2 separate regions of the Homo sapiens genome follow, and region 2 is linked to region 1. Evidence: fine-mapped expression QTL. A gene starts in region 1. The other region holds a variant in brackets. All regions are shown on one strand. Distances are between the middles of the regions.

What was found.
Region 2: its variant is fine-mapped to the expression of SPEG in whole blood (TOPMed, PIP 0.92).

Annotation. Positions count from the first base shown.
Region 1 is chr2:219,429,229-219,441,565 of GRCh38, forward strand. SPEG (striated muscle enriched protein kinase) reads left to right here and starts at 5,615. Exons shown (of 41, transcript NM_005876.5): 1 at 5,615-6,137. The coding sequence starts at 5,750. RefSeq lists an enhancer at 1-3,011.
Region 2 is chr2:219,459,609-219,471,945 of GRCh38, forward strand. It overlaps SPEG (striated muscle enriched protein kinase), which reads left to right. Exons shown (of 41, transcript NM_005876.5): 7 at 2,274-2,449; 8 at 2,690-2,778; 9 at 4,825-5,000; 10 at 7,566-7,826; 11 at 8,970-9,128; 12 at 9,251-9,440; 13 at 9,548-9,771; 14 at 12,260-12,337. Among named protein-coding and RNA genes, the nearest start is that of SPEGNB, 30 kb to the right of the region's middle. RefSeq lists a silencer at 1,074-1,254 and enhancers at 5,531-6,198, 6,199-6,864, 7,112-7,654. The variant T/C (reference allele first, on the strand shown) is at 6,474.

The DNA.
Region 1 (12,337 bases):
TGAATGTCTCCAGAGCCCGAGAACTCACCGCTTCTTTGGTGGCCCCTTCCAGCTGGGGACAGTTCTGAAATAAAGCTCTTCCTTCTCAGCACACCTGTCTCCTGTGACTGCTACCCACTTGTCCCCAGAGAAGAAAGAAGGCCCAGAGCCACCCTCTATCCCCCAGGTGGGGAAGGATTCTTTGAGCACAGCCTGCCTGGAACTAGAAATTCTGGTTCTAATCTTTGCCTCTCTTCATAAGAGCTGAGCTGTGACCAAGGGAACCCAGAGAATGGGCAAATACAAACCAAAACAGATTTGGGTTTCCACCGGCTGCAGTGGCTCACATCTATAATCCCAGCACTTTGGGAGGCCAAGGTGGGAGGATCACTTGAGCCCAGGAGTTTGAGACCAGCCTGGGAAACTGCAAGACCCGATCTCTACAAAACAAAACAAAAACCCAACAACAGGGGCGGGGCACGGTGGCTCACACCTGTAATCCCAGCACTTTGGGAGGCTGAGGCGTGTGGATCACAAGGTCAGGAGTTCAAGACCAGCCTGGCTAACACAGTGAAACCCCTCTCTACTGAAAATACAAAAAAAAAAAAAAAAAAAAATTAGCCGGGCGTGGTGGTGGGTGCCTGTAGTCCCAGCTACTCAGGAGGCTGAGGCAGGAGAATGGCATGAACCCGGGAGGCGGAGCTTGCAGTGAGCCGAGATCGCGCCACTGCACTCCAGCCTGGGCAACAGAGGGAGACTCTGTCTCAAAAAAAAAAAAAAAAAAAACACCTCCACGGCAAAGCCTCTTCCTGCTCCTTGGGCTCTGGGGTCTTAACCTTCAAGACTCTGAACATCAAGAAGTAACAGGGCTCATAGAATGCTGATCGGCTTCCCACCGGACCCAAAGGATCAGGCCCAGACCAGCTCTGACCCCAGCAGACAGGGTGTAATGGAAGGGATCATGGAGGCAGGCACCATATGCCAGGACTGATGGATCAGCAGACATTTTCCTGCCTGTCTGTCCACTCCAGGTATATTTTCACCCCCGTCCCTTGAGGCCCCTGTCCTATTCTACTCATTCACCCCCTCCCTCCTTCCTCTCACCACAAGCTCACCCAAGGCACATCTGCAAATGCTTCAATAACCTTCGATTTAACACCTAAAACGTCAGCTACCTAAGGGTAGAATTTTAATCCATTTTATTCACTATTGTATCCCAAGTGCCCAGAAGAATGCCTGGAAGAATAGTAGGTACTCATTAAATATTTAAATACTTAATGAATGAATACCTACTGCGCACTTTTACTTACTTTTCTCTAAATTAAATATTCACCAGGAAGGGCTGATGGCCCCCACTTTATTCACTGATTCAATGAACACTTACTGAGATTTTTCCCATGTGCCAGGCATGTGGTACATCATTATGGCTTAAGAAGTGCCCAGTGGCACCTCCAGAGAGGTAGGGTGACCTGCAAAGGTCACACAGCAGTCTGTAGCAAAGGAGGACTGGGCTCCAGGCTCCCTGGCCTCTGGAGCTCAGATCTCTTTCCATGACACCAGAGGCTTGTGATCGCAAGACAGGGCAGACTGGCAGCACACACACCCAGCTAGGCGCCAGGCTGCAGGGCACTGTGGGGCCCATGCTGAGGGACAGACGAGTGACTTGCAGCCAGCTGTCCCAAGTGCCTGGCCTGGCCTGGCCAGAGCCTGACGGCTTCCAGCTGTCACAGCTAGTGTGGGCTCCTCCCAGAAGAGGGCACCAGTGACTTGCATGGACTTGTGCCCTCCCTACCCAGGCCCACAGACTCCTGCACGCAAATCAACGAATGCCCCAATTATGGATCTAGGAAGGCAGAAGGCAAGTCATGTTCCAGGCTCTGTGCCAGGCCCTTTTAAATAGTTAATCTTCATTTGAATATTTAATATAATAATTTAATGTCATTACTACAACGTAAGTCAGATCATGTAATTCTTCTGCTCAAAGCCCTAAGATGACTTCTCATTTCACCAGGAACAAAAGCGCCATGGCCTGCAAAATTCTAGGCCATCTGGCTTCTGCTGCCTGTCTGACCCATTTCCTTCCACTCTCCCCTTGCTCCCTCCATCCTCTCTGGCCTTCGTCTTGGAGCCCACCAGGCATATTCCCACCTCTGCCAGAAGCAGCCCTCCCCAGACATTTGCATCATTTGCTTTCTTACTCAAGATTGGCTCAAATGTTCCCAGTGGGGCCAACTCCAGCCACACCCTATTTGAAAGTGCAATCTCCCACCACACTCACATTTGCCTTAAGCTTTGTCCACAGTGCTTACCTCCTTGTAACAATCTTTACAGGTTCTTTCTTTTCCTTCCTTCCTTCCTTCCTTCCTTCCTTCCTTCCTTCCTTCCTTCCTTCCTTCCTTCCTTTCTCTTTCTTATCTTTCTTTCTTATTGAGATGGAGTCTCACTCTGTTGCCCAGGTTGGAGTGCAGTGGTGCCATCTCGGCTCACTGCAACCTCTGCCACCCGGGTTCAAGCAATTCTCCTGCTTTAGCCTCCCAAGTAGCTGAGATTACAGGTGTGTGCCACCAGGCCTGGCTAATTTTTGTATTTTTAGTAGAGATGAGGTTTCACCATGTTGGCCAGGCTGGTCTTGAACTTCTGACCTCAGGTGATCCTCCTGCCTCAGCCTCCCAAAGTGCTGGGATTACAGGCGTGAGCCACCGTGCGCAGCCTATTTCTTTGTATTTGTTGTTCATCTCTCTTCTCAAGTAAAAGCAGCATGGGAGCAGAAATCTTTGTCTGTTCACTGCTATATCCCTAGTCCCTAGCACAGTGCCAGTACATAGTAGAAACTCAAAAATATTTGTGGATGAATAAATAAAAAAATTATGGATGAATAAATAATTAAAACCCTGAGTTGTGCTACCTCCATTCTATAGATGAGGAAACCGAGGCTTAGAGATGCTAGGTAACTTGCTTGAGATCGCATCGTTCATTTATTCAACCAACTTACTAACCAGCCAACATTTACAGTCTACCCACTGCATTCCACACACATTTAGAGGCACAGTGTTGGGTGGCTTTGGGTTATTTGTTTTTCGAAATACTCTCTATTCCTTTTTTCTTGATGTACCATCTGTTTGCAATGACTTCCCCCATATTGTCACCTTCTAGAATTCAATTTACACTTTAGAATTCGATTCATCATCAGTGGTTGCCAGAGGTTGGTGGAGGGGGTCTATGGTAGAGTCTATGACTCCGAAGGGGGTACATGAGCTAGTATTTGGGGTGATGGAATTGTTTGCTCTGTATGGTCCTGGAGTGGCAGATACATGATTCTATGCATTTGTCAAAACCCAGAGAACTGCACCTCATAAAAAAATAAACTTTAGGCCAGGCACGGTGGCTCACACCTGTAATCCCAGTGCTTTAGGAGGCTGAGGCAGGCAGATCACCTGAGGTCGGGAGTTCGAGACCAGCCCGACCAAAATGGAGAAACCCCGTCTCTACTAAAAATACAAAATTAGCTGGGTGTGGTGGTGCATGCCTGTAATCCCAGCTACTCGGGAGGCTGAGGCAGGAGAATTGCTCGAACCCGGGAGGAGGAGGTTGTGGTGAGCCGAGATCACACCATTGCACTCCGGCCTGGGCAACAAGAGTGAAACTCCGTCTCAAAAAAAAAAAAAACTTTAATGTATGCAAACTGTAAAAAAAATTATTCCTCAAGGTTCTTAACCTCTATGGATGTAATTCAGTGTTTAAATGGTTCCTCCTATACCTTTTACACACTGTCTCTCGCGCTCTCTCTCTTTCTCTTTGACTTCAGTATCCCAGAATGAGGATGGGGAAGAGGAGGCAAGGGTAAGAGTAACATTCTCTGCCTCTGAATACTCATGGCTCCTCTCAGCCCTTCCTGGGTTTCATCCCTCAGGGCTCAAGGTCAGGCCTGGGTCTCCTACTTGGACTTCTTAAAAAATTTTTTACTTTATGATAACTGTAGATTCACAGGCAATTATAAGAAATAATGCAGAGAGATCCTGAATTACCTTCACTTGGTTTCCTCCTAGGGTAACATCTTGTATGACTATAGTACAGCATCACAACCAGGAAAGGGGCATTGGTATAATCCACCTACCTTCTGCAAGTTTTACCAGTGTTACATGTACTGTTAGTGTTGCGTACAAGTGCAAATGCACATTTAGTTCTATGCAACTTTATCACTTGTGTAGATCCACATAACCACCACCATTACCACTGTCAAGATACAGAACTGTTCTGTTTTTGTTTTGTTTTGTTTTTTGAGACAGAGTCTCACTCTGTTGCCCAGGCTGCAGTGCAGTGGTGCCATCTAGGCTCACTGCAACCTCCACCTCCCAGGTTCAAGCGATTCTCCTGCCTCAGCCTCCTGAGTAGCTGGGACTACAGGCATGAGCCACTACACCTGGCTAATTTTTTGTATTTTTAGTAGAGACAGGTTTCACCATGTTGGCCAGGCTGGTGTTGAATTCCTGAGTTCAAGTGATCCACCCACCTCGGCCTCCCAAAGTGCTGGAATTACAGGTGTTAGCCACCGCGCCCAGCCAAGATACAGAACTGTTCTATCACAAAGGTCTCATCTGGACTCTTGATGTTTCTCAACGTGCAACACTTAGGCACATCAGAATCAGTTGAGTCATTTGTTAAATGTGCAGATTCCTCCCAGCTCAGCTGCTGAACCAGTGTGGGGCAAGGAGGCTGGGAATCTGGCCTTTACTTGAACTGGCCGTCATTTCTATCCATCCTCCACTTTGTGGCCGCCAAGAGGATCCTCCTAAGACACAGCTCCCACCGTGTTTTTTCTGCCGCTTAAAGCTGTGTAGTGGCGCCCCCTGCTTTCAGGGTAGAGAAACCAAAGCCTTAGCAAACAAAGCCTTCTCCAGGCCCCACCTCCCTTCTTCCACTCACCCCACCCACTACGCTTCAATCCCTCCAAACCTCTCTAATTCCCAGGACGCCTTTGTTTTCATCAGGCTCATTTTGTTCATGCCGTTCCCTCTGCCTGGAATGTCCTGCCCACTCTTTTCTGCCTATTGCAACCCTATTCCACCACCCATTCTTACAGATGAGGACTTGGAGGTTGAGAGAGGTTTGGTGTCACCCAGCAAGTAAGGGCAGGGCGCAGTGGAGGCCCCAATCCACCTGACTCCCAGGCTCCTGGTCTTACTGTTCGCCAGCTGTAATGGAGGCGCTGGGGGAGGCCATGGTCCCTCTTCGGAGCTGTCTGCTCACCTCCACTTGGGCCTGCCTCCCCATCCACCTCTCAGGCATCTCACCAGGACCGTTCCTCTTCTTCCCCTCCCAGCGAAGCCGGGCAGGGATGAGGGGTCTGAGATGAGGGAGGAAGGGAAATGGGATTGAGCCCAGGGGTAACCTGACTCCCTGCAGTGGGTCGTGTGGGGGCCAGGCACACTACGGAGGGGAAAGCCTGGAACAAATACCGAGGGACTCCCTTAAGCCGGGCCGGCGATGGGGGCTCCTGGAGGGAGAGAAGGAGCCAAGTGGAGTCAAGTCCCTCCCCTGCTGCCCCCTCCCTCCACGGCTCCCTCGCAACCCGAGCCGGGGGGCCTAAAAATAGCCCCCAGGCGCAATCGCCGGCCGCCCCGGTGACCTTCTGGGTAGCACAGGCCGAAGGCGGGCGGGCAGCAGGAAGGCAGGCCGCCGGCCCCCCAGACTTGTCTCCTAGGGCACCGTCCCGCGGGTGCCCCCGTGGCCGCCCAGTTCCGGCGTCCCCCCAGCCCAGCTCTCAGTGGCCATGCAGAAAGCCCGGGGCACGCGAGGCGAGGATGCGGGCACGAGGGCACCCCCCAGCCCCGGAGTGCCCCCGAAAAGGGCCAAGGTGGGGGCCGGCGGCGGGGCTCCTGTGGCCGTGGCCGGGGCGCCAGTCTTCCTGCGGCCCCTGAAGAACGCGGCGGTGTGCGCGGGCAGCGACGTGCGGCTGCGGGTGGTGGTGAGCGGGACGCCCCAGCCCAGCCTCCGCTGGTTCCGGGATGGGCAGCTCCTGCCCGCGCCGGCCCCCGAGCCCAGCTGCCTGTGGCTGCGGCGCTGCGGGGCGCAGGACGCCGGCGTGTACAGCTGCATGGCCCAGAACGAGCGGGGCCGGGCCTCCTGCGAGGCGGTGCTCACAGTGCTGGAGGTCGGAGGTAAAGGGCAGGTGGGGGCCGCGCCCGGCAGGGGCGGGGTGCTCAGAGGTAGAAAAGGGCTGCCCAGGCCACGCGGGTAAGGTACTGGATACTGGTTCCGCCGCCTTCTTCCCAGGTGCCCTGGCTTCTCGGCTGCCCGGCCCCAGAAGTGAGACGAAGAGCCAAGTGCAGGGAATGGGGTGTCAAGGTAGAGAGGCTCCCCACAGGAAGGTCAGAGGTCAAGGGGCAGCAAGCGGTTGATAAGCCAAGCCTGAGACCCACTCCCACCTCTCAGGGAATTCTGGGGTGGAAGTTCTTCTCCTCCTGTGGAGAAAAGCCTCCTGGGGGAAAGGGTGTCCTTCAGTTCCATGATTTAAACTTGAGATTGACACTCCGATCAGCTCCTTAACAGGGGAGTCCATGTCCGAAGGAGGGGGCCAGCTCCTCTGGTCCAGGCTGCACTGTTGAAGGGATGGCTCAGAGCTCCCTGCAGGCCATTGCCGTGGCAGGGTTGATGTGGTCAGCTCTAGGTGGGGTGTGGAAGAGGCCTATGGTTGGCCACGTGTGAACAGGGTCCAGGGTAGGAGGAGGTGGAGCCCGAGCCAGGGCCCCATGGGCATGAATGGAGGTGAGTGCTTGAGAATCCACATGCAGGTGTGTGCCTGCATGGGTGCTGTGGAGGGCCCTGGATTCTGTGTGGTGGTGCAAACAGGTGAGGTATGGGCACGTGGAGCTGGAATGGGAAGCTCCTGGACCATGTCTACCTGAGCTTCCAGAGTGGATGTTTCCAGAGCATGGAAGGGGGATGCTATGGACCAGTGCTTGTCCCCCGCCCATAGATTTCCAGGTGCAGTGTGAAGAAAAGGCTGAGGGTCTGAGGCAGAAGGGGAGGGCAAGAGGCTGGGCCCAGTGCTCATGGTCCAGCTGGGGCTACCATGGAGGCCAGGCCAGGGCCGTTAGCCTTGGATCCATTTGGGGGCTTCCTTTTTGATTTCCTCAGTCCTTGAGTAAGCCAAGTGGTACTTCTCTAGCCAAAGGCAGAGCCTTGGGCAGGCTGCGCCTTGAGAAACAGAATTCTGAGGAAGTAGGCTACAGCTGGGAGAGATGGCAAGGAGCTGGGGGTTCACTCCCTTGGACGTTTCTAAGAGGGACATGTCACTCCCCTGGGTGCTGCTGTGTAGGGGTAAATCCTTGGAGGCTGGGGAGGAGGCACAGGGAGGAAAGCCCTCAGCAGCAGGTGGGCAAGAAGTCTCTAGGACACAGCCAAGTCAGGAGAGGGAGCCGGGCTGGCCTCCCTCCATCGGCATCTCCTCCCCCCAGCCCTGCTCTGCCCACCTTCCTGGAGTCTCTGTGGCCAGGCCTGGGCCAGAGAGGGCCAAGGCTGGCGTCTCCTGGTTGGCCTAGCACCTGGACAAGTACAGGCCTCCCGAGCCTGGGATCAGGGGATGGGGTGCATTCTAGCAGACTTCGGAGCTGGGGAAGGTGTGGACTCCTTGGGGATCTCAGCTCTGGTCCCCCCAGGGGCAAAGAGGGCTGAAAATAGAACATAGATCAAAGGGTAAGATAGATGAGTTGATGAGAATATGACTGGGGGAGAGATTAGGGAAGGGAACGAAAGAGCTGACAAGGAGAGTAACAGTCATAATATAAGTTAAGGTTGGAAAGGACCACAGAGAACTGCAGCTCCAAACACATCCTTTCACAGGCAAGGACACTGTGGGCCAAAGATCAGGGAGCTCTGCCTAAGACGTACTAGTCTAGTTAGAGACATAGCTAGTTATGGCCATCCCAGAACTAAGAACCCAGTCCTCCTGGTTTTGGTTCTGGGGGCCTTGTACTCCTCAAGAAGTTCTGGAGAGAGAGGAAAGAGCGAGAGAGGGAGGGAGAGTACTGGGAAAGTAGCTGTCACATGATTGGCCCAGGCCTGGCATTTCTCAAGATGGATGTCTCCTGGCCTGCCTTGGTCCCTCAAAGTGGTAAGTGGTGATGAGGTGTGAGAGCCCCCAGCAGGGCTGTTTGCTCAGCCTCTCTGCAGTCTTGGTGGTGTGGTCAGCAGCGCTGAGCCTGGCTGGGCGTACCTAGACAGAGGCCAGGCTGACAGTGTGCAGGCTGGGCTGCTCTGGTGGAACAGCAGGCTTGAGAGGCTTGGGGTAAGAAAAGGGCCCTGGGTGTTGTGGGGCTGGATCAGGGGCCCTTTGACATTCATATGAGAATAGGAAGAGGACTGGGCTGCAGCAAATAACCTTTGAGAACATGTCCTGATTGTGTAGATAGAAGGTGGCAGAACAGGTGGAGGCCTCAGTCTGTCCCACTGCAAAGAACCATGTGTGTAACTATTACACCTATCCCACATGCTTTGGAGGAGGGAGGGGCTTTGCTTTGGTGATGCTGGGGGACTGACTGGGTGAATCTGGCTTCCTATCCCTTCTGTTGCCCACCCCCACCAGCCCCTGCCCAGTGATAGCTCCTGCTCCAGGGCAGCCGGGCAAGCAGCTCGGCATTGCTCAGACTTACTCATGGAAAACTTTCTTGGTTGGAAACAACAGCAGGAGGACTTCAGGGTACTCGAGGAAGCCAAGCAAGGACCTGGCTGCAGACGGAAGGACATGCTTTCCTGGCTGGGATTGCTGGCTCAATAAGACAAAGTGATGCTAGGTTCCTGGCACTCCTGAAGCCGGATATGTTAGCTCAAGGATGGAAGGATTTGGGCATGGCTCTGGAAAGTTGGGGTCATGAGAAGGCAAGTGGGCTACAGCCTGGAAAATTTGGAGGATGGGAAACTGGGGGTGGTGGTGCTGAGATTTGGGGGATGTAGAAATGAGGGAAGAATCGGAAACAAAGGAGGTGAAGATAGCAGAAATGCAGGATACTTGTAGAATCCTTAACATGCGTAAGTACCCTGTCTCATTTAATTATTTAATCTTCCAAACCCTAGGTTACTGTTATGACCATTATTCATATAGAAAAACTGGGGTTCAAAGAGGAAATTTACCTAAGTTCCCATGGCTAGTGAGGTGCCAGAGCCAGGTCTGAAAGCCAGGTATCTGAGTCTGGGTCCATACTGCTTGTCCACAGAAAGAGAAGTGTGGGAAGACTGTCAAGGATTTGTCATCGTCACCATCTTTCTCCGTCAATATCTCCAAATCCATCTCTGGCCTAGTCTCCAAGATAGGCAGGCATTCTTCTTTTTCAAAATATCAGGCTCCCACTTGCACAGGCTGAGGAGCCACATGCAAATCCAGAGACCACAGCAAGTGCTACCCTCAAAGCTGTGGGTGTGCGTGTGTGGCTGAAGAGCAGACCTGCACTAAAGGGCAGAGGGGAAGCAGGAGAAGGCACAGCCGAGAGAAGAGGTGAGCTGATGATGCTCACATGGTGTGTTAGTTGGAGCTTCATAGCTAGGGTCTGGAAGATTCTGGTGTTAATCAGAAGGGCCAAAGATCAAAACATGGTAATGAACCATCCTGGGGACTCAAAGGCTTGGAGAGGAGAGCTTAGAGATAGGGAGAGAGGGCCAACTTAGGCAAGGAAAGGGTAGAGGAATGTACCAGAACCTGTGTTGAGGAATATTCTGCAGTTATTCTTTTTCACCTGGAATTTAGAATGTCTGGCTAGAGAAGCCAGGTGGAAAGTAGTATGGAGCTGGGAATGGGTATGGGGAGTGTCAACATGCATGCATGCCAAGTGCTGACCAGTGAGCGGAGGAGAGGCCAGAGTGGGAGCAGAGAGGAGCTCTGGGACCCTCTCCAGGGGAATCCTGAGTGGAATGAGAGATGGTCACTTTTCTGGCTAAAGACCTCTGGGGACAGAATATGGGTTAGGACAGAGAAGGGGGAAGGCTGGATGAGTGGAAGCCGTTGCAGGAAGATTTACTGTCCCCGTTCCCATCACTGCTTACCCTCTCCACCTGCAGCTCTGCCACCCCCTCCCATATTTATTGAGTGCCTACTATGTGCTTTTGATACACGAGTCAGGGGGTTGAGGGAGACCAAAATTTATGTCCTCCAGGGGATAACTTTCTAGTGAGGGGAGACAGACAATACACAATAAACATAGTAAATAGGTAAATTACACAGTATGTCAGAAATACAGAGCAGGGTCGTAAATGAGAGAAGGGAGAAACTGAACTGAGGCAGGAAAGAGGAGACAAAAGGGAGGTGGGGTGGGAGCTTGTGGCATAGGATGGAGATTTGGATTTTCTCTGGTTGGAGGGAAATGCTGGCAGTGCAGAAATTGGAAGTCTGGGTTTGGGGGAGTGGCAGGGAGACACAGCTGCCCAGCTATGGGAGAAAAATGGGGCAATCTGGGGCCAGCTGGGGAGGCCCACCCAGAGAGCATGTTCCAGGCCAGCCCTTCAGGAGTGAGCAGTGCCGACCCAGAGCAGGAACACAGAATCCTGCCGGCCCCTCCTGGGCCCAGCTGTCCCGTCACTCACGCCCGCTGCCCATTGGTTATTTTTGCTACGGAATGTGCCAGCCCCTTGGATTCTCCTGGGGAACAGGGGCTCAAGTTACCCCCTCTCATCACTCAGCTCCCCATCTGTGAGTGGGTGTGTTTAGGGGTGTACATGGAAAGTGCCCATGGGTGTCCAGGGTCCTCTGGCTGGAACGAGTGTGGACACACATATGTGCCCTCTCAGCACACGTCCCTGTGCATGTGTCTGTACTTGTAATTTGCTTTGATGCTCTAGGAAACAAGAACACCTGTATGCACCCAGAATGTACAAGACATGACCTAAACTTTAGAATAAAAGAGCAGCCAGGTGCGGTGGCTCATGCCTATCATCCCAGCATTTTGGAATGCCGAGGCAGGAGAATAGCTTGAGCCCAGGAGTTCGAGACCAGCTTGTGTAAGATAATAAGACTTCATCTCTACTTAATATTTTTTTAAAAATTAGCTGGGCATGATGGCATGCACCTGTAGTCTCAGGTACAAGGGGGGCTGAGGTGGGGGGAATCTCTTGAGCCCAGGTGGTCAAGGTTGCAGTGAGCCATGATGGCACCGCTGCACTCTAGCCTGGACAACAGAGTGAGACCTAGTCTCTAAAACAATAAAGAAATCTAAAATAAGATAAAGGGGCCACAGACTCAAATAACTGCAGGGGTCAAGTAGAAACTGAAAATGAGGGAGGTGCGCTGAGCTCAGGCATGATTGCTCCAGCCCAAACATTGTGCAGGCTGAACAAAACTCATCAGTCTGTCCCTGTATTTATTTTATTTTATTTATTTATTTATTTATTTATTTATTTATTTATTTATTTAAAGCAGAGTCTTGCTCTGTCACCCAGGTTGGAGTACAGTGGTGCGATCTCTGCTCACTACAACCTCGCCTCCTGGGCATAAGTGATTCTCATGCATCTGCCTAGGTTGGAATTCTGGCTCCCTCAATTTATTGGCCATGTGACCTTGGGCAAGTAACCTCTCTGTGTCTCAGTCTTCCTCTTGTCGTGAGGATTAAATGAGCTCATTCACATAGAGTGCTTAGCACAATGCCTGGTACATACCAAACACGCAATAACTGTTAATAGTTACTTAGTAGTCACAGCTCAGAAATCAGGATTGGCACTACCTGTGCTCACTGGGATGATAATTCCCATCTCCAGGACACATGGAGTCCTAGAACCTGTATGGCTTTGACTAAGTGATAGGACTTCTCTGAGACTCAGTCACTTGTCAGTTAAATGGGTATAGGATTATTCATAAGGGTTTCCAGCTCATGGGGTTATTGTAAATGAGGTAACATTTGTAAAGTGCCTGGCACTTAGTAACTGCTAAACAAACATAGCTATAATGGTCATGGGGAGGATAGAATTTTGTGTATGCAAAGTGTGCATAGTGCTGAATAGGGCAGGGATCGGGTGGAACACACAAAATATTTGGTGAGTGTGCTTCCCTGTGATTGAGAACACTGGCCAACTTTGTGAATAATGGGGGTACCTCTGTGCACCTTTGCTTGTGTGTGTGAATGTACGGGGGTAGGGGGCCGCGCATGGGACAATCGCGAGGTAAGGCAAGATAAAGCCCTCTCTGGCTTTCTTGAGAAGCCTTAGGGTTTTCACAGTCTGAGTCCATGTTAACACGCAGTCCACACCCGCCAGGACCCTTGCCCTGCGTTTGACCTAGGCGCCCCCACCCGGCGCTGTGCCCTTCGGCGAGTTCGGTTCTGCCTGGCACAGTGTGTGTGCGCGCATGTTTGTGGAATGAGCAAGTCGAGATGCTGCT
Region 2 (12,337 bases), 30 kb after region 1:
CCTTGACCATCTGGCCTTCAGCTCTGCTTCCGTTCCCAGTCCCTGGGCCCGTGAGCCTCCTCAGTACTGTCCAGCCTGGAGGTGACCCTGGGGCAGGACTCCAGGCTCCATAGAGGGGTAGGACCGCCCACCTGCGGAGCCATGCCTGTGATCTCAGCATCAAATGCCTTAAGCACCAAATGCCATTCTGACTTCCCTCCCCAACCCTACCTCAAGACAGCCAGCCTGAACCGTGGGCCCCTCCTCTGCCCGGCCCCCAGCCCTCCTTCCTTACTGGCCATGCTGGGAAACACAGGTCATGGCTTGGGAATGTGGCCCCGGGTTGCGGGGTGAGGTGATAGGAAGAGGGAGAAGGACATGTGACCCCTGCTCAACAGCCCCCTTCTCTCAGGTTCTGTGTCCAAACCCTTTCCCCATCCCAGATACAAATGGGTTCTCATGATAAGGGGCCATTTGGGGGAGGCAGCCCCCGCTGTCCTCTTTAGCGGGGCTAAGGTGGGTGGCGGGCAAGTTGCCAACAGGTGCCCTGGCGGTTTGGGTAGGAAGGCTGGATGTGGGCTTAGGCCCTGTGGTGGCTGCTGGCCAGACCTTCCATGGCAGGGATGAGGGGGCAGAGGTGGGATTCTGGGCCCCCTCAGATTCTTCCCCCACCTCTGTGAAGGAGGGCAAAGATCTTGACAGTTCTCCGATTTTCGGGGCCAAAGAAAACAGGTATGCCCTGGCTCTGTAGTATTTGAGGCTCGTTAGCGCATTCCCCGGTCAGGGATCTTGGTGGTTCCGTCAGAGCAAGGGGCAACACAGGGAACATTTCCCACGGGCACCTTCTTTGGTGGACGTGTCAGAACAAATGGGTCAGGGCAAGTGTCCCTATTGGCACAGCGCAGTGCCACCCCTCCCCTGTCTTGCTCGGGGACGGAGGCCCCACACCTTGAGTCAAGGCACCGCAGAGCGGGCTTTGCTCTTGTCAGGGTCTGAAGCTGTAAGGAGAAGAAAGGCAGATCCCGCGGCTTGGGAGTGAGCAGAGTGGCTAAATCCAGACGGCCGCGCTCCGCCCTCCCTCCCCTCTCCCCTCTCCTCCCCCTCCACACCAGGGCCCAGGCTGCCTGTGGTCTCGGCAGGCACCACCTTCCTAGCCAGCTGCCTGCCGGCCTGCCATCCAACCTCCTCCTTCCCCTCCTCAGGCGCCTTCCCCTCCCCCAGGGCCTTCTCCGTGCAGGGCCTCAGCTGGGTCAGCCGAGTGAGTGGGGCTGGGCAGGCTGGACAGGCTGGGCTCCTGCTCCCTGGGGAGCCACGCTGGGGTGGGCAGTGGGCAGGCAGCAGGAGGGCCTGGTGCCAGGGCAGAGCCTTCAGGACAGGCACAGGCTGGGGTCTGTGTGCAGAGCCTCGGGGTGAGTTGGGGTACAGCCCTGCTGGGGGCTTGGGGTGGGGGGACCCTGGGGAGAACCTAGGGGGCTGTGGCAGTTTCATGTCTGTATTTGGCAGTCGGATAGGAGCCAGCTCAGCGAGACTGGGACCCTGGCCAGTTGCAGGGGAGGGCGTCAGGGCCCTGGGGACACCCCTCCCCCAAGGCTGACTCTGGTGCCCCCCTCCTCTTCCCCCAGGCTGAGCTGCCCTTTTTGGTGGATGACTCCAGCTCTGCTTTCCTATCCCTCGAGCGTTTGGGGGTGCAAGCTGTAGGGCTGTGGCCAACAGGTGCCCCTGGGGTTTGCACGGCAGGAAGCTGAGAAGGGAAAGGGGGAGGGGCAGGCTAGATAGTGCCGCCTCATTGGCCCTGGACCGAGGTCGGGATGTGACTTGTCTGCGGTGTGTGTTCCTCTGCACCAGGCCCAGCTCACCCAAGAAATGGGCGTCCTAGCCATGCTGCTCCAGGGTTCCATAGACCTGCTTCCCCTGCTTTTGGAGCCTGCAGTTGGTAGTTTAGGTCTCTAGTCCATGTCAGGAATGTGGGTGCCCTGCTCCAGTGGAATTCTCCCACCAGGCCCAGGAGTGGCCCCTCTGCTGCCCGAACCCTTTGCCCCAGGCCTTTCCCTATGGTGTCCCCTCCTGGGAGGATCAGCAGGGTCGGTGTTGGCAGAGCCAGTGGCAGAGGAGGTTCCAGGGGCTCAGGGAGGGGAAGAAGCTGGGCGAGGTCGCAGGAGCCTGGGGGTGAAGTCAGGGCAGGGCCGGCCTGCGGGGAGCTGCCGCAACTCCTGGGCTCTGGGCGACATTCCAGCCAGCTCTCCCAGGCTCTCTGCTCGCCTTCCTCCCTGGTAGCTATCTCTGTCTCTCTCCAGGTGGGTCTACATCCCCTTTCAGCAGCCCCATCACCTCCGACGAGGAATACCTGAGCCCCCCAGAGGAGTTCCCAGAGCCTGGGGAGACCTGGCCGCGAACCCCCACCATGAAGCCCAGTCCCAGCCAGAACCGCCGTTCTTCTGACACTGGCTCCAAGGCACCCCCCACCTTCAAGGTCAGACCCCTGAGGCTGGGGCCTAGCCTCCTGTGTGCCCCCGTTCCTTTGGGTGCCCCCTTGTTCTTGGGGCCATGCCTAGGCAACATCAAGACCTGGAACTTTGCTCCCATTCAAACCCTCTTACCCAGAGCCAGTCTCAGCCTGGCTGTGGAAGAGTCCTCCGTCTCAGATTCCACAGCCCCCAGGACCCAAGGCTCTGCCCTGTCTTCCCCTGACACTTTGGGGTACCCCCTTCAGGTCTCACTTATGGACCAGTCAGTAAGAGAAGGCCAAGATGTCATCATGAGCATCCGCGTGCAGGGGGAGCCCAAGCCTGTGGTCTCCTGGTGAGTAGCCGCACTTTCCACCACCCACCAGCGACTCTATGCCAGGCCTGGCTCTGGGAGGTCTGGCTTTGGGTGGAAGGAAATGGAATCTTGGTGGGCTTCCCCATGATCTGCCTCAGGGGCCTCATCTCAGGGACAGCAGTGTACTCCCCCCGGCACCCTGTCCCTTGCCCCATGTTCCAGGCTTATTTAGGGCTTCCCCTTCTGGGGAGGGGTTTGGGTCTCATGTCTGTCCATTTGGGATAAATGACTGGGTGCGGTGGCTCACGCCTGTAATCCCAGCATTTTGAGAGGTGAGGCGAATGGATCACTTGAGGCCAGGAGTTTGAGACCAGCCTGGCCAGCATGGCGAAGCCCTGTCTCTACTAAAAATACAAAAAAATTAGCCAGATGTGGTGGTGCATGCTTGTAATCCCAGCTACTTGGGAGGCTGAGGCAAGAAGATTACTTGACCCTGGGAGGTGGAAGCTGTAGTGAGCTGAGATCACACCATTGCACTCCAGCCTGGGTGACAGAGTGAGACCCTGTCTCAAAAATAAAAATACCCCCTTCCCAAAATTAGCAAGGAGCAAGACATTTCAGAGGCCAAGGAAGGAGGATTGCTTGAGCCAAGGAGTTGAAGACCAGCTTGGGCAACATAGTGAGACTCTGTCTCTACAAAAACTTTTTTTAAATTAGCTGGACGTGGTAGTACATGCCTGTAGACCCAGCTACTTATGAGGGTGAGGAGGAGGATCACTGGAGCCCAGGAGTTTGAGGTTGCAGTGAGCTATGATCATACCACTGCACTCCAGCCTGGACAATATAGCAAGACCCTATTGCTGAAAAAAAAAAGACATGCAACAATTTGTTTCTGAGCTGCCAGCAGCCCCGAGTTAAATGTGGGTCTAAGCAGAGGGGCCTCGCTCATCCCAGGTGCCTGGAAGATGGATTACTCAGCTTGCTAATTTTTTATGGTTTGAATTCTGTTTTTCATTTTTAATTGATTGTCTGGTCCCCACTGTGATTTTTTTTTTTTTTTTTTTTTTTTTTTTTTTTTTTTTTAGCTGGAGTTTCACTCTTTGTCGCCCAGGCTGGAGTGCAGTGGTGCGATCTGGGCTCACTGCAACCTCCGCCTCCTGGGTTCAAGGGATTCTCCTGCCTCAGCCTCCTGAGTAGCTGGGATTACAGGCATGTGCCACCACACCCAGCTAATTTTGTATTTTTTGTAGAGGCAGGGTTTCTGGTCAGGCTGGTCTCGAACTCCTGACCTCAGGTGATCCACCCACCTCGGCCTCCCAAAGTGCTGGGATTACAGGCATGAACCACCGTGCCCAGCCCCCACTGTGATTTTTTTTTTTAACATTGTAAGTTTTTTCATATCCCTTTTGGGAAGTGGGAAAGCTATCTGTCCATTATAAATAAATAAAAATAAGACATGGGGAAGTTTAAGAATTATTAAGAGCTAAATAGGGTCAGGCATGAGGGCTCAATGTCTGTAATCCCAGCACTTTGGGAAGCCAAGAGAGGAGGATCATTTGAGCCCAGAAGTTCAAGACCAGCGTGGACAACATGGTGAAACCCTGTATCTACAAAAAATACAAAAATTAGCTGGGCATGGTGGCGTGTGCCTGTAGTCCCAGCTACTCAGGAGGCTGAGATGGGGAGATCGCTTGAGCCTGGGGAGGTAGAAGCTGCAGTGAGCTGTGATTGTGCCACTGCACTCCAGCCTGGGTGACAGAGGGAAACCCTGTTTAAAAAAAAAAAAAAAAGACAAGAAAAAAGAGCTAAATAGCACGGCTCCACTCTGAATGCAGCAGGGTTCCGAGAAGGGAGAGCTGCAGGCAGTTAGAAGTGACCTGGAAGCTCCTAGAGGTGGGTGGGATGGCAGAGTGGGGGTAAAAACCTAGCCCTGGAAACCAGGGATGCCCACGGTCAGTGGGACAGATCTGGGGACTGGGCAAACTGCACAGGGAAGGAGAGGCCTGCACAGTGCTGCAGCCCCAGTTCCTGTGCACGCACATCAGGCCCCTGGGCCCTGGGACTGAGTTCTTGCCCCTCTGACAGGCTGAGAAACCGCCAGCCCGTGCGCCCAGACCAGCGGCGCTTTGCGGAGGAGGCTGAGGGTGGGCTGTGCCGGCTGCGGATCCTGGCTGCAGAGCGTGGCGATGCTGGTTTCTACACTTGCAAAGCGGTCAATGAGTATGGTGCTCGGCAGTGCGAGGCCCGCTTGGAGGTCCGAGGTGAGTACCTGATTTCTCCATGAATGCCCACCTGGCCCTGGCCCCTTCCTTCCCCCACTGTCTGCTCTCACACAGCCTCAGTTAGAGGATGCCACCACTGAAAGGGCCTTAAGGGGCCCCTAGTCCAGCTGCTTATATTATTGTTGAGTGAACCAAAGCCCAGAGACAGGAAGTGACCTGCCCAAAGCTGCACAGCACATTGTTCCGTGCTCAGCTTACTACACAACACCACCTTCCCTGTTGCTCCATCACGGAGCCCTGGCGGCAGCCAGAGACCCTGCACCTGCCACTGGCCAAGCTCTCTCTACACTCTTCTGAGCCTTTGTCACCCTGCTCTGCCCAGGACCCTCCCTCATCCCCCTCCCCCTCTCCTCTCGCCCCTTTGCCCACCCTCCCATCCCATTGCTGTGCAGAAGCTACTGTGAGGTAGCGGTGGGGAGAGTCTGGTGGCTGGACCCGTTCGGAGGGGCCCTTGGGGTGGCTTAGGCTTGGAGCATCACAGGGACCCTAGGGTGCCAGGGTGAGCACAGCTGTGACGTGTGAAGAGGCCTGGGCCCCCAGAGCCTGGGGCATATGTGCAGGGGCCCTCTCAGGCAGCAGAAATGCCAGGCCCTGGCTAGGGGGCCCTCGAGGGCCATGGGTTTTCCTCCCCAAAGGCCACAACCGTTTATCTTGCCTTCCACCTCACCCTTCGCCTCAATGGCTCCTCGCTTCCTCTCCTCGCTTCTCACTCAGCCCCCAGCCCCTGACCTTCCCCAAGGCTCAGAGCTCAGACCCTGACAGTCATGGTCCCTCTGCTGGCCCCCCTGCCTCAGTTCCCCTCCTCTGTGCCTGCCGTTCCTGTAGTTGCCACTTCCTTGGTCTCCAGATTCTTCAGCCCTCCTCCCCGGCCTGCTTTCTCTCCAGGGCCTGGCTCTGCCTCGCTTCTCTGTATTAACCCATGTCTTGGTGCTTCTTTCTCTTGGGGATTCCTTCCGACACCCCCAGGCTTTGGGGTGCTCCTGATCCCATGAATGCCTGGTTGCCCGGGGTCTCTGCCTGCCCAGGAACCCCGAGGAACCAGTCTCTGGCTAGCTGCCGGCCCTCGCAGCCCAGAGCTGTCCTTGGGGGAGCCAAGAGTGGCAGTGCTGCCCTGACGGTGTGAGAGGCAGCCCTCTATGCAGAAGGGCCCTAGCCAGGTCTGCGTGCCTGTGCGTGCATGTGTGCGTGTGCGTGCGCATGCGTGCGTGTATGTGCATGCATGTGTGTGCATGTGTGTGCGTGTGTGCGTGCGTGTGCATGTGTGCGTATGGGTGTGTGCATGCGTGTGTGTGTGCGCGCGTGTGCGTGCACGTGTGCGTGCATGTGTGCGTGTGCATGCGTGTGTGTGCATGTGTGTGTGTGCGCGTGCGTGCGCGTATGCTGCACTAACCTGCCGCTTGCTGACTGAGGTTTTTGTCTGTACACAGGCGAGTGAGCTCAGGGGGCCACCTG[T/C]GCTCCCCCCGCTACCCTCCGAGCCGCGCCCCTGTCTCAGGCACCTCTCGGACCTCGCTGTGTTTCACTGCCTCCTGCCCACAGACCCAGGCCTGCCGGCCCGGACCCGTCCCAGCCTCCCCTCCCCACCCCATGCAGCCCCCAGGGGGATAGCCCATGGGCCCCTGTGGACCCTCCCTCCCCAAGTGGACACATGGCTGTGCAGGCCAGGAGGCCCACAGATGGACTGAGTGCTGGGAAGGGGCGGCTGCGAGGGGTATCAACCCCCCGAGTCTCTCCCTGAAGGGGAGCACCGGGCGAGTGCATGTGCTACTGCTGCTACAGGCCTGTCTATCTGTTTGTCTGTCTGTGTGTCTGTGACAGTCAGGGAAGGATGCCTCGGAGCTGAGGTGGGGTGAGACAGAGTGGGAGAGATTACGGCATGGCATGGAGGGGCCCAAGGAGCAGGGGCTGTTGACAAAGGCCTTACCAGGAAGGGTTAGGACACTGACCATTCTAGAAATGGGTTTCGAATGGCACAACACTTTCTATTTCACAAAAGACCAAAAGCCAGAGGCCCCAGGCTCTGTGCTGATGAACAGCCTGGCTGAGCCCTGGCCCTGGCAGGTTTAGGGCCCATTTGGGGCCCCCTCCTTCTCTGTCAGGGCTGGGGTGCTCTGTCTGGGAATGAGGGAGTTAACCAAGTTTGGTGCAGGAGCAGGGGCAGGGGGCCACTGTAGTGAGCGTGGAGAAATTTGGAAACACCTATTTCTTAACTCAAATAAAGTCCAGTTTGTACCTATCTGGTGTGTTGTGTTTTTTTTTCCCCCGCCGATGTCTCTGCCACCACGTGGCCCTCTCAGTTTCCCCTCCCTCAGTTCCCTCTTGCCTCCATGAATCACCCTCCCTGGCCCAGCTTGGATTGCCATCTCAAAGCCAGGTCTGGGCATGCCTTGCTGTCCTGGCCAGGTGGGTGGGCTTTCCCCATCTCCAGAGAACAAAATGCATCTCTCTCTCTGTGTCTGTCTGTCTCTCTGTGCGTGCGTATGTGTGTCTCCCTCACCCTGTGTGTCTCTGCTCTGTGCGTGGCCCCCGTGGCTGCTTTCCCCTCAGCACACCCTGAAAGCCGGTCCCTGGCCGTGCTGGCCCCCCTGCAGGACGTGGACGTGGGGGCCGGGGAGATGGCGCTGTTTGAGTGCCTGGTGGCGGGGCCCACTGACGTGGAGGTGGATTGGCTGTGCCGTGGCCGCCTGCTGCAGCCTGCACTGCTCAAATGCAAGATGCATTTCGATGGCCGCAAATGCAAGCTGCTACTTACATCTGTACATGAGGACGACAGTGGCGTCTACACCTGCAAGCTCAGCACGGCCAAAGGTAACTCCCCACTCAGGCATTGGGCTGCCGTGGGTGCCCAAGAGCTGGAGGGAGGGGACTGGGGGTGTACAGTAAGATGCCTGGGAAACAGAGCTCCAACCCCGAGGGGAAGCGGGGGAGGGTGGGAGCTAGTACATTGCCTTGGCCTCAATAAAATAAGCACTTAGAATAGTGCATAGCACAAAGGAAAGGCCGCAACAGGGTTAACTGTTCCTAGGAGGGAGTGCATCTGCTGAGGTGAACGTGGGTTCCCACGCCTGCCCTGCAAGTCACCAGCCATATAACTTTGAACAAGTCACTTCATCTCTCTGAGCTTTAGCCTGTTCATCTGTAGAACAGGGATGGTGATCATTCCTCCTCTGTAGAGGGATTGGCAGGATTAATGAGATAGTTTATGTGAAGAACAAAGCACAGGGCCTGTCAAAGGGCCTTTCCAGGAGAGGGTAGGGCACTGAGCATTCCAGAAATGGGTTTCAAATGGCACACCTGCCTAATAAATGCCAGCCATTGTTACCACTGATGCTATCTCTGACCTGGGCCTGCCCACATGGAAGGGCAGAGATTATGGCACCTGCCTTGCTACGTTGTGGGTGATGAAGACCTAAGCGGAAGCTGGAGGGGCTTTAGAAGCAGGAGGGTGCATCGGGTCAACATAAGGGACCCTTATCTCCTCCAGAAGCTTCTTTGAGGGTTGGTAGGTGGGGCCAAGGGGCATCTGCTCTGGGTCTGGGGAAGGTGGCTAGGAGCATGGGCATGACCCCAGCACAGAGGAGAATTCTGAGAAGTAGATGGAGGAGGGGTGGGCTTGGCTTCTAGGACCCTATCAGAGCTGGGCTGTGCTTCATCCAGGGTGGGCAGGGTGAGGGGAGGAGGGGGGAGCTGGGGCCAGGCCCTGGGCTCAGGCCCTGGGCTCCTATGGAGTCCCCAGCCCACCATGGCAGTCTGCACCCACCCTTGCTGACCTCCACCCTCTCGAGGTCTAGTCTCTGGATCTGTGCCCACTTCCTCCCCTGAGTACCCAGAGCCTTTGCTGGGCTCTGCCCAGGCTCCAGCTTCCTGCTCAGCCTTAGGTCAGGAGTGGTGGGTTGGGATGCCTGGGCCTCCTTAGCCTTCCCTATCTCTGAGCTGCCCCCTGCCCCACAGATGAGCTGACCTGCAGTGCCCGGCTGACCGTGCGGCCCTCGTTGGCACCCCTGTTCACACGGCTGCTGGAAGATGTGGAGGTGTTGGAGGGCCGAGCTGCCCGTTTCGACTGCAAGATCAGTGGCACCCCGCCCCCTGTTGTTACCTGGACTCATTTTGGTACGGCCCCTGTGCTGCAGGTGTTGAGGGCCCCCCCAAGGGCCCAGGCGGCGATGGGGTGCACCCAGAGGGCAGGGCCCCTCACTGTGCCTGCTCTGCATTCCCACCCCTCCTTTCTGCAGGCTGCCCCATGGAGGAGAGTGAGAACTTGCGGCTGCGGCAGGACGGGGGTCTGCACTCACTGCACATTGCCCATGTGGGCAGCGAGGACGAGGGGCTCTATGCGGTCAGTGCTGTTAACACCCATGGCCAGGCCCACTGCTCAGCCCAGCTGTATGTAGAAGAGCCCCGGACAGCCGCCTCAGGCCCCAGGTACCACCGGGGCCCCAAATGATGCTGGGGCTGCCTGTGAGGGGCCAGCCCAGCCCTGGGGTGGGAGGCACGGCCCTGGGCCTGTGGGCAGCTGTGTGGTCTTGCAGCTCGAAGCTGGAGAAGATGCCATCCATTCCCGAGGAGCCAGAGCAGGGTGAGCTGGAGCGGCTGTCCATTCCTGACTTCCTGCGGCCACTGCAGGACCTGGAGGTGGGACTGGCCAAGGAGGCCATGCTAGAGTGCCAGGTGACCGGCCTGCCCTACCCCACCATCAGCTGGTTCCACAATGGCCACCGCATCCAGAGCAGCGACGACCGGCGCATGACACAGTGTACGTGTCTGGGAAGTTCCCCGGGAGTGTCCCCTGCAGCACCCACTTGGCTTGCAATGCCCTGCCCCTCTCCCCAGCTCTCCCCAGGCCTTTCCTCTGTAGCCTGACCAGGGACAGGGTGCCTGGGGGAAGGGAACCCGGAGGGACTGTGAGGTCATTGCCTCCCCTGCAAGCCCACACAGCACTCATCTGCTGAGTCACCCCTCAGTGCCCGTTAGCACTGACTGGGCAGGCAGTACTGCCTGCTACTAACCCGCATCGGGCCCATGAGCAAGTTACAGAAGCCCTCTGTGCCTCAGTTTCTCATCTGTAATTGGGTTGTTACGAGACTAAATCAGTTAATGCATATAAGCCCCAGAGCAGGGCCTGGCACCTGGCAAGCAGCTGGGAGGTGTGAAGTCTCAGTATTCTTGTTTTAGTAGCCATTATCATCAGCGGTGGTACTTCCTGGAGACATTGCAATGAAAAAGCAGGTGTGGGCAGTGTCTGGCATGGAAGGGATGCTCTGTCCAGGGTTGCTAACAAATAGCAAATAACGAAGAAGGGGCCAGGGGAGACACAGAGGAACGTATTTGGGTTGGTGTCCTCTTAGCCTGGGATACTTTCTTATGGGAGCATCTCAGTTCCATCCTTGAAGGAATCTGAGTCTTGTGTGAGAAGGTCTGCCCCCCTCCCATAAGACAGTGCCCACTCTTTGACCCACGATGATTTCCTCTTATGGCTGCAACATGACAAAGATCACTTTCATTAAGTGCTTTCTAAGTGCCAGGTCCTGAGAGCTAAAGGTATGACAAGGACCATCTTACCTTGCCACAGGCCTATAAGGCGGATACTATTAGCCCCATTTACAGATGGGGAAACTGAGGCTTAGAGAGATACAGGAAGCTGCCAAGAGGCAAGAAAGGACTGTCTGACCCTGGTGCCCAGCTCTTAACCAGGATGTCCCTGTCACCCATGCTGCATCCTCCCTGCCCACCCGCCTGCCCATCTCCAGTGATGCCACCCCGGCTCCAACCCCTGCCCACAGCCTCCCATGACTGTCATTCTCAGCAGCAGGCCTCCCTGTCTCCCAGTCTGCTCTGAGGCCCTGGGTGAGTGTCTGTCTCAGGATCTAAGCTGGCGTCTCCGCTTCTGCCTGTATCTGGGGTCACTGGCAGCCCTTGGCTTCTCTTCTCTTATAAATAGTGTCAGCAGAGATAAATGAATGGGTGACTGTTCTATGCAGAGATAACTGCAAAGAGAAGGGAAGGGTGTCTAGGGACAGCCCTGACATGAAGGAGGACAGTGCAGGCCTCCTCTCTGTGTCTTCGCCAGAGACAGCCTCCTTATCATCCAGGGAGCAGGGAGTAGGGAAAGAGCTTTGGAATCACATGGTACCAAGGTCAAACTATCATTTATTAGCCGTGGGACCTTGAACAAGTCAATATCTCTGACCTCATTGGTAAAATGGGGATAATTTTGTAGAGTTGTTGCAAGGATTCACGAGGGGGAAAGCATGTCAGGTACCTGGTATAGGCTGGGCACAGAGCAGGCAACTCTTGTAATATATCATAGAATGTATTTGGTACTTACTGTGTGTGAGGTTCTGGGTCTGGTGGGACAAGCAGATCTGACAACGTCAGCCCTCTCTTTAAGGAGCTTGCAGACCAGGTCAGGAGCTATGACTGATGCAAGAGGAAGAGCCCCCGCCCATGAAAAGCAGCGTGGGCCAGTGCCCATCGATGTGCAGGCGAGAGGGTTGGGGTCCTGGGAGGAGTCAGAGGATGAGGGGTAGAGAGCGGGCCAGGGGCAGGGGGGCTTCATGGGCTGTACCCACTTAAACTATGTCTTGAAGGACAAGGAAGCCTTAGGTAAGAGGAGAGCATTCCCCAAGGGAGGAATGTTGTGAGCAATGACCTGCAGATGGAACTCGGTGTCTCGTTCAGGGGCCTGATAGTTAGCCAGCATCAAGATGCAGAGGAGCAACAGAGACGTGGCTGGCAGGGAGTTTGGGTTGAGGGCTTTGCTGTCCTCCTGGAGGGCTTCCCTGCAGCTGTGCTGGAGACAGAATGGCAGTGGCCTTGGGGATGGAGAAGAAGGGCTTAGGGGAGGGGCCTTGGGAACAAAGCTTTGTTCGAGTTTTGACATAGAGGTTGTGACCATGCAGAGGTGGGAAGACGAGGGGCCAGTCAACAGAGGCAGGGACCCCAGAGGGTGGCCCAGTGTAGGAGGAAGAGAAGATGATAAGTTGCCTGGCCTGACACACTGGAGGGACAGACCAGAGGGGCCAGGGCAGATGTAGACTTGGAAGCCAGCCCGGGCCCAGACCCAGACTTTGCTGCACCATGGATGCACTTCTTGCTGCCTGCCCCATCCTTGCCCCATCCTTGCCCACTCGCCTCCTCCCTGCAGTGGATGGGGGTGAGGGACCAGGCCCGGGATGGCATGGGCCTACCCCTCAAGGTATCCTCCGGGCTCAGGCCCAGTGTCACTGTCCCTCCCCTCCCAGACAGGGATGTCCATCGCTTGGTGTTCCCTGCCGTGGGGCCTCAGCACGCCGGTGTCTACAAGAGCGTCATTGCCAACA